Homo sapiens: one gene and its partner. The protein of the gene in region 2 purifies or fractionates together with the protein of the main gene of each other region. This does not show direct contact. Each region holds a gene or a part of one and is shown on either strand. Other genes may lie near its edges.

What was found.
Region 1: the proteins of PLXNA4 (region 2) and NTRK3 purify together in Homo sapiens (affinity purification with western blotting, with the first as the bait; one study listed by BioGRID). This does not show direct contact.

The regions. Positions count from the first base shown.
Region 1 is NC_000015.10:87,861,310-87,865,401, reverse strand, and holds part of NTRK3 (NT-3 growth factor receptor isoform a precursor), read left to right. Parts: 3' UTR 1-4,092. UniProt on the Homo sapiens protein: Receptor tyrosine kinase involved in nervous system and probably heart development.
Region 2 is NC_000007.14:132,506,006-132,511,365, reverse strand, and holds part of PLXNA4 (plexin-A4 isoform 1 precursor), read left to right. Parts: intron 1-2,586; 5' UTR 2,587-2,672; coding exon 2,673-3,860; intron 3,861-5,360. UniProt on the Homo sapiens protein: Coreceptor for SEMA3A. Necessary for signaling by class 3 semaphorins and subsequent remodeling of the cytoskeleton. Plays a role in axon guidance in the developing nervous system. Class 3 semaphorins bind to a complex composed of a neuropilin and a plexin.

The DNA of each region.
Region 1 (4,092 bases), on a different chromosome or scaffold from region 2:
AATGAATCCTGAGGCCAGAATGCCAAAGTCACAGTATTCTGTCATTTACAGCCCCTAAAAAATCCCAGGTGTTTGTGATGACAAGCCACTATTATAAGTACTCTGTATTAGTGACTACTTGGCAAGTAAAATTTTCTCAAATGTTATTTTTCATAGATCTCCAAGCAACAATCACTTGCAGTGTATCTGACAAAATGCTATACATGATTTTCTAAAAGTATTTTGATCACTCCAGAAAGAAATCAGAATAAAGCTGCATACCCCAAATCCTAGAAAATTCACAAATATTTTGCTCAAGTTCAGGCTCTCTCAGCTTCTCTTTTCTCTTTAACTTTTGCCTCATACAGAGGCAATCTTGATGACAAAAGATTGGGCTCAATTTTTGTTTTTCTTGTGTAGAAAAGCAACACCTCTGTTTCGGACTACTGTTCAGTAGACAAAAAGCATCCCAGCTTTCGAAATGAGAGTCCAAATTGGGTTACCACTGAGATTTTAAATTATGATGTGAAATTGGAGAAGGTGAACTGTACAGGGCCAGACAAATAATAGAGCCCACTCTCTGGGCAGTTGCATGCAGTCTTGCTGGGTGCTGAGCTGAGAGACTGAGAGCCGCTTTTGAGACGTGTTTTGAGGCATATCTTCCTTAAATTTTTGCTGGTGTCTGTTTTTTAGAAGTTTTGCCATTAGCATTTTTCACTTTGAGTATCTAGCCATGGAGAATGCTCTAAAAAATACAAGGAGACAGGGGGATGCTTTATCTATTTGGCTTAGTCACTGGTTCAGGGTGAAGTTTCATAATTTATTCTGATAATCTGGAGGGGATGACCTCCTTCACAGTACTGTTAAAGCCTTCCTTGAACAAGCTCATTTCACTATATAACTTCCTAAAGACAAGGCTGATTATTTAAGGATTTCAGAGATATCATTTGGGGAATAACTCACCAGGTAGAGAAAGTTTGACCTGATATGTTAACAGGCACAACAAGAACTTATTTCAATGCTTTCTCACCATCTGCCCCTTCTCTGAGAGTTTAGCCTTTCTTAGGATACTTCCTTTTCCAGGCTAGAAAAGATTGATTGTATTCATATCCCAAAGTAAAGGCTCCTCCAATTCTATCAGATGTGGAGGCAACAGAAAATGACTCATGTTATTTTTCTCTCACTTCACAGCATCAAGAACTCTTCTTGTTTATGTGGGGGCCATGGTGGATTAGCTTGAGGAACTGTCAAATTAAAATGAAAGGAAAGCAAGTTGGGGCAAGAAAATTCTCACTCTGAATGTGAAAGAAAATAGCAGTGTTCTTCTCTCTGGCAAAGATTTGTGTACTGTTGGGGGAAGATTCATGTTATTTCTCAGGTAGACTTTACTTTTTGAGATTCTGTGTGTGTGTGTGTGTGTGTGTGTGTATGTGTGTGTGTGTGTGTGTATTTTGCCTGGTGGGGGGTTAAAGGCAGATAGAATGTAGTTGTTTATGAGTTTATACTTTCTCTTTAGCATAATAGATGCCCTGTTTATTTTCTCAGAATGTGACAATAAAATTAGGAAAGGAGAGGAATTCAGAGGCCCATGTTGCAGTTCATGGCAAAGTTTTACCCAAATATTTCCTTCAGAAACATTTAGTCATAGCAAGCCATATAAATTATTGTCTGCAACTGGTATCAGAAAAAGAAATCAGTAGGTGGGGACTGTAGACCCCAATGGTGCATCTGTTTACAATCTTTCTTTTCCAAGGTTTTAAGGTTCATGAATAACATGAGGGAATTTTGGGAGAGCTACCACATCAGTACTTTGGCACGCATTAACTGTTCCACAGGAAAACTAGGGTTGCTTCAGGGCTATTTTTGTTTGAAATGACACACATACAAAAAAAAAAAAAGACTTTTGGAACATGTTTTGAGGCCTGTCACCTGAAATCAGCCTTTGCTGAAAGAGTATTTAGTTTGATAAGCGGGATTTCTTGCTTCTCGCATCCCAGAGTGTAAATTCTGCAGCGAAGCCTGGGTGTATGTTTTCAGCACCAGGGACAGCAAACAACCCCCTGAATTGAAGGGGCCCGCTATCCTGATTGACCTCCCAGACTAGGAAGGGCAGTTGTTTTGTTTTCCTTTATTTCCTATCTACCGGAGCCTCAACTTGGAAGACTTTATTCTTAAGGTTCTTACATCTTTCATTTATTACCAAGCCTAGCTTAGCTGTCTCTGTCACATTCTTGACCTCCTAACAAATGGGTTTGGAGTAACACTCCCAGCTCTCCTGGCTCAGAGAAGTAGAAAGAAACACACTAGACTTCATTTGAAGGGCATGCTTTAGAGTAGGCTCCCCCTACACAAGTCTTTATAACATACCACTGACTTGTAAACCCCTAAATGAAGGACTGCTTATACACAATCATTTTCCTTTTAACATTTCTGCACATTTCTCACAATGTACAAGTCTATGTTTGACTCAGTGTGCATCTGGAGGCAATGTTTCACAGCAGTTGAGCAGAAGCTATGAAGTTTGGGGACAGAAAAGGTCCCAGTGATGCTGCTGTTATTCATTTTGGAGACTCATTGGGGGCACTTCTCTGATTCTCAGCATCCACCCTTCAACCCTGAGTGCTCTTTAACAGCTGTTTTTGCCTTAAACAATCACAATAAGAATGCAAATGACTCCTTGTGGCATTCTTCAGGCCAGACTGAAGGGTGTACTGAGAAAACAAGGGTAGCAGAAGCACATGTTGTCACATTGCTTTGTGATTGGCCAGTTTTTATATAGCACAATGACACACAGATATCATCTTAGAGTCATCATTGTCTACTCTTAACTAATTGTCAGCATCTTCTCCACTCATGTCAGGATGAATCCTGTGTTGGGAAGGCAAGTCAGTCACTGCAGGTTTCATCATAAATATTGCCTTCTATCTGACAGATGTTAGAAAACCTCCATTTTGAATGCCTCTGTACCATCCAAGGCTCTGAATTTCCCCTATATCTTATCCCTTTCTTTCCATTCCCTTTCCATGTTGCTTATCATAACATCCATAACATTTAGTGGTGTAAGAAAATAAGGGGTTTCTTTTAGGAATAAATGAGGTGGAAAAAGTAGGACAGAGCCAGATCTCAGAGGAGCAAGTTCAGTGGAACGATGATTTCTAACTTGGGAGTGGGTCTAAGATGTAGCCATCCATTCCTTCCATTCCTTGTCCTCTTGAGTGAATCTCATTCCAGTGCTCACACTTGCCCTGCAAAAAAGGCCATGGCACAAGATTCTCTAGATTATTTGTATGAAGACTGGAGGTGAGCAGCATCCAACACCTCTGTTAGAGTTCTTTAGAATAGAGGAGTTTTGTCTTATATTTTAATCCAGGAACCTTCCCATATTTAAAAAGTTTAGAAATAATATGTACAGAAAGGACCTATGGGGATAGGAAAGCTTAATAATACAAGTTATTTTCCCTTAGAACAGAGGGGAAGGAGCTGCAAAGTGACTGCTAATGGAGGAACGATCTGCTGGCTGGGGGAAATGTGGCCTGAGACTAGAGATGCAGAGCAGGCATCTCTAGAAGGAGAGATGATGCCAATAGAAGCCCCAGGAGGGAACTGGCCAGCGAATACAATTTTATAAAGATTCTCAGTACTTTTTCTGAAAAAATTCCTAAAATTTTCAAGGGCGCGTCTAGCCCTCTGCCTCTTTAGAGGTGAGCTCAGTGCTACTTCTGGGTTCTTAAGGCAAATGCCCTACAAACACCAAAGTCTTGTATTTTCCACTCTCAGCCGGCACTGGCTAAGTGGGATTTTTTTTTTCCCTTCCCTAAGTGAAAGGGACTTGTTTTCAGGAGAAGTGTCCTTTAAACATCCAGCTAAAACTGGAAGTAATTTTTTGCATGAATGGCTTTTTACAGCTAGGTCTACAGCAGAACAAAACTTGTATTAAACTAAGTGCTACTTTACATATCTTATTTCAAGGGAAATGAAGGATTTATTGTCGTGTAAATGATATACACTGATTTGTTTCCTACTGGACATTACATGTCCCTTTATCTCTAGGCTGATGTTGTGCAGCAAACTTTCAATATCTGGAAAATCAGCTGGTACCTACTTCAGTGCATT
Region 2 (5,360 bases):
CCTGGACTTCAAACCCAGTTCTGCTACATCTTAACCAGTGTCCTTGCAGAGCTAAAGTTTCCTCACCTGAAATAGGAATAAGACAATTCTGATCCCAGGGAACAGTGGTGAGGATTATGTGAGCCAAGCTATGTGAAAGTATTTGCATGGGCTCTGGGGTGCAGTAAATACTCCACAGATATTGGTATTCGTCTATGCTTCCAGCCCCTCTTTCTGCCAGTCAAGAAACAGTTGTTGAGCCTCCTCTATATGTGCAGCTGTGAATGTGTTGACGAGCAAGACAGACCCAGCCCTGCCCTGTGGAGTTCACAGACCCTCAGCTCCAAACTCTCCTTCTGCAAAGGCTAAGGCTAAATGGAAAGGGAGAGGCTCCTCTCTGGGGGCCTTTGCTCTTTTCCTCTACAATTTCATTTCTGTCTTCAACACTGTGCATTTCAGTCTCAACTTCCCAGTGACATCCTGGCAAGGCTGAAGCTCTCTCTTTTCAGCCTCATCTTCCACCTGATTCATTCATGAACTATGTTCTCCAGACGTACTCTTCCTTGTACACACCCTCATGTGATATGCCCATGCTTCTGCTATGTAGACCCCTCCCCTAGAAGGTCTTTCCCTTCGTGCTCTGACTGTCTTCTTGAAGTTCACAGCTCAGCCCAAATTCCATGCCCTCCCCAAGGCCTCCTGCAGCCTGCTCCTTGCCCTCTCTCACCCTAAGTTAGAAGTCTTCCTCCTCCTAGGAACTTTCAAAGCACTCTCTTGTATGCCATGTGACTTTTTGTCGTGCGTATCAGTTCAGGTTCTGGTGGTATCGGCCTGATTTGACTACGCATTCGTTGAGGATCTGCTCCTTGGGCCCCACAGTGTCTTGCACATTTTGTGTGTGTTCTGAGCAAACATTTGCCACATGGGTGAATGAATGAAGGCCCTTGGCTTTCAGCACTGCTCTTGGTTGTGGTGTGTTCCACTAACCAGTCTTCCTCCTCTGATATTGACTGGAGAAGGCCTGTGCTTTTCATTAGGATGCTGGCTGACAATGCAAAGTCTTTATTTGGTTTTCTTCCTTCTTCTCTTGGTTTCCATCTGACCTAGCGTTTGCTCCCTGCTGGGGAATTTTCCATTGCTTAGTGATCTACCTCTTCTCATTCTCTACTTTTGAGGTGTTTGGGGGTGAATGAGAAAAATTCCACAGAGCTGAGATGCCCCCAGATAGGATGTTGGCAATTCCTGCCCTGAATTCTCTCGAACTGGAAGAAACATAAAGCTGTCCAATGGGAACACATGCAGGAAGCACCTTGAATAGAAAGAGACCCTCAGGATGGGGAGTGATCTTGTTCCTCGGGGAGTTTTGTATTTATTTGTTTATTTATTTGCTTGACTGCTTCTTAAAGCATTTTTTCTCTCCCTTTAATGAAAACCTCTCAGAGGAGGCCCTGCTAGGGGAGGAAGCCAAGATCTGCCTTGTTAAAATAACATTAGGGCTCAGGGTTGGGCAGTGAACCCAGAGGACCTGGTTGCAGCTGCAGTGTGACGAGATTGAGGATGTGGGTTTTTAATTTGGCCTCTTCATCCAGCAGAGGAGGCACAGAGGAAAGTTTCTCCTGCAGTAGTAGGTACAGACACAGAGAACTGGAGGTAGTGGCTGTAATGGACAGCCCCGAGAAGGGATCAACCTTAATTCTTCTGCTGCATGGGACAGGGACCACGGTACAGCCCCAACTGTGCAAGGTTGGGGTGAACTGAGATGGTTTAGCAGTTAAGATTGCGAACCTGTGCACATTTACACTACTCATATTTGGAGCTACCTCTACCACTTATAGCTATGCAAGTTACATGACTTCCCTAAGCTTGCTTTCCTTAGCTATAAAATGTGGCTACAATAGGATGTACTTCGGAGGTCTACCAATCAGGGTCCCAGCAGGTAATAGACAGCACATACAAATTTGGTCCTTTGAGAAAAGGTTAATAAAGGGGCTATTCATAAAAGTGTGGCTCTTTAAGGGGCAATGTAGTATGGGTGGATAGTAATAGTGAGGTCTCTGTTACCACCTCTACGGCCAGATGGGGTCCAGCAGGAGGTGGTTCACAGAGCCTGGAGACGGAGAAACTGTGTGCAGAGGCCTGCTGTGGGGAACACCGGACAAAGCTTGCAGCCAGTGCAGGCAGCCCCGCCTCCTGCCCTTCCTCCCTCCCTCCCTCCCTCCCTCCCTCTTCTCCTCCAGCCAGTCTTTGCGGATGCTGCCTGCTGGTGGCACCTGACCCGGGTGACAGTGCTGGACAGTGTCTGACACAAATTCAGGCACTCAGTAGATAATGGCTGTTAATCATGATCATCATCATCATCACTGCTATTATCATGTCATTATCATCACCACCATTATCGTTACTGATGTGTCCTCCTGGGGCTGCTGCCACCCGGCTCTGACTGTGTCACATGCCCGTGGTGGGGGTTGACTCAGTCAGCCTCCAGCACCCCCCAGTGCAGTTCTGCTCAGTGTGTGCAGAACATTTTGAAAGTCCAGGCAGACAAGCTGTGGGGTGAAATGAAGCCACTGGCATTGTTATCCAGCTCATTGTCTTCCCTTTCTCCAGTAGGGGAGACTGCATTGCTGAGTCCTGGCCCTCTGAGGGGACGACTGTGCCTGAGTGCTGCTGTGCCACTGGGACCCGCCTCTGCCATGAAAGCCATGCCCTGGAACTGGACCTGCCTTCTCTCCCACCTCCTCATGGTGGGCATGGGCTCCTCCACTTTGCTCACCCGGCAGCCAGCCCCGCTGTCCCAGAAGCAGCGGTCATTTGTCACATTCCGAGGAGAGCCCGCCGAGGGTTTCAATCACCTGGTGGTGGATGAGAGGACAGGACACATTTACTTGGGGGCCGTCAATCGGATTTACAAGCTCTCCAGCGACCTGAAGGTCTTGGTGACGCATGAGACAGGGCCGGACGAGGACAACCCCAAGTGTTACCCACCCCGCATCGTCCAGACCTGCAATGAGCCCCTGACCACCACCAACAATGTCAACAAGATGCTCCTCATAGACTACAAGGAGAACAGGCTGATTGCCTGTGGGAGCCTGTACCAAGGCATCTGCAAGCTGCTGAGGCTGGAGGACCTCTTCAAGCTGGGGGAGCCTTATCATAAGAAGGAGCACTATCTGTCAGGTGTCAACGAGAGCGGCTCAGTCTTTGGAGTGATCGTCTCCTACAGCAACCTGGATGACAAGCTGTTCATTGCCACGGCAGTGGATGGGAAGCCCGAGTATTTTCCCACCATCTCCAGCCGGAAACTGACCAAGAACTCTGAGGCGGATGGCATGTTCGCGTACGTCTTCCATGATGAGTTCGTGGCCTCGATGATTAAGATCCCTTCGGACACCTTCACCATCATCCCTGACTTTGATATCTACTATGTCTATGGTTTTAGCAGTGGCAACTTTGTCTACTTTTTGACCCTCCAACCTGAGATGGTGTCTCCACCAGGCTCCACCACCAAGGAGCAGGTGTATACATCCAAGCTCGTGAGGCTTTGCAAGGAGGACACAGCCTTCAACTCCTATGTAGAGGTGCCCATTGGCTGTGAGCGCAGTGGGGTGGAGTACCGCCTGCTGCAGGCTGCCTACCTGTCCAAAGCGGGGGCCGTGCTTGGCAGGACCCTTGGAGTCCATCCAGATGATGACCTGCTCTTCACCGTCTTCTCCAAGGGCCAGAAGCGGAAAATGAAATCCCTGGATGAGTCGGCCCTGTGCATCTTCATCTTGAAGCAGATAAATGACCGCATTAAGGAGCGGCTGCAGTCTTGTTACCGGGGCGAGGGCACGCTGGACCTGGCCTGGCTCAAGGTGAAGGACATCCCCTGCAGCAGTGCGGTGAGTACAGGGAGGGCTGCGCGCTGGGATGGTTGGGAGTGTAGGATGAGAACCCCAGCCTGTAGCCCCCATGGGATGTGTATCATCCTTCCCCTTTTGCAGATGAAGTGAGTATATCCCATCCCATCTCTGAGTCTCATTGGACCCAGAGTGTCACCAAATATTCTGCAACTATGACATTGAATGTATAAGAGTCAGAGTGGGAGCTGAAACATAAATTCCCATCAGTGTACTTTTCTCTGCCTCATATTGGCTCACTAGTTATGACGGGGAGTGCTGGAAATAGGTAGGAATTGTGTCAAATGGATGTCGTAGGGACCGGGCATGGCTGGAGTCTAGATCACAGTGTGCTGTAGTGCAAGACACGTACATGCCCTTTGTACTCACCAAGCCTGCAAATAACTTTCCTGGGAGCTTAGAATAAAAACCATATGGTAGAAGGAGAGGAGAATGTGAGGAGTCATCCTACATTTGGGATAGATATGGAATTTCAGGAGAGGTGTGTTTTTAGCCCTTTGTATGTCTTTAGGAAATGCTAAAATGAGAGCACAGTCAGGTAAGAGTGCAGTGAACACATAGAGAAAGCAAAGCTAACTTAGAAAAGGGATGGGAAGGGACAAATTGTGTTTATTGAGCATCTTCTGTGTGCACAGTGCCTTGGAAGAGACATGTGAGAAAGTCAGGAAGCAGCCGGAGAGCAGCATGGGATGATGGGAGAGCTGTGGGGAGCCAGAGGGAGAGCAGGAGAAGGGTTGGCTTAGGGGTCTTCGCATGGCTGGTGGGTATGGCCTTGCTGGGTTACCCCAGGTGAAGCAGGGGACACAGACTCCTGCCTGTCACAGCCTAGCTCACGTGTGCCCCACCATGAAAAGCATCCCCCTTCTTGTGGCTTGACTCTGTTCCTCTTCACAATGGTCCTGCTTTTTCACTATCATTCTTTGGGTGACTTGGAAGGCTCAGCTATCAGCATCTTCAGTGTTCTTGTCCTTTTCCTTTTATAACTGTGCATTTTAAAGATTATGAACCTAGTCTGAGAACATCAATTCTCTAATTTTAATTTGGGGAGAAGAAGAAAGGAAAATGTATCCATTGGACAGAAGTACGCATCCATACTGATGTGATTCTTGACTCCTTAAACTTTGGTGGAGTTCCATATTAGGAAATGTATTTTGGTTGTTTAAAAAAGTGTAAATTTCCTTTCATAAAGTATAACTATGTGCCAGGCAGATCTCAGTGGGGACTGGCACCCTCCCCAGCCAGAGTGTGGAGAGGCCATCACTCTGGTCTTTGGGATTTGGGTTGGAGATAGGGAAGAGGGAGGAGAAAGATGGTGCCCTGGCATTAGGCTTAAGCTGTTTTCCACTGTCAAGTCTTCCAGGCACTGGGCCAGCTGAAACTAAGAGATGTCGTCTCTTCTTGGAGGTCTTGAAAATCCAGGAGTTCCCTGATGTCACAAAGGAAATAGGAGAGGTGCTATGGACCAAGCAGGGCAGCAAAAAG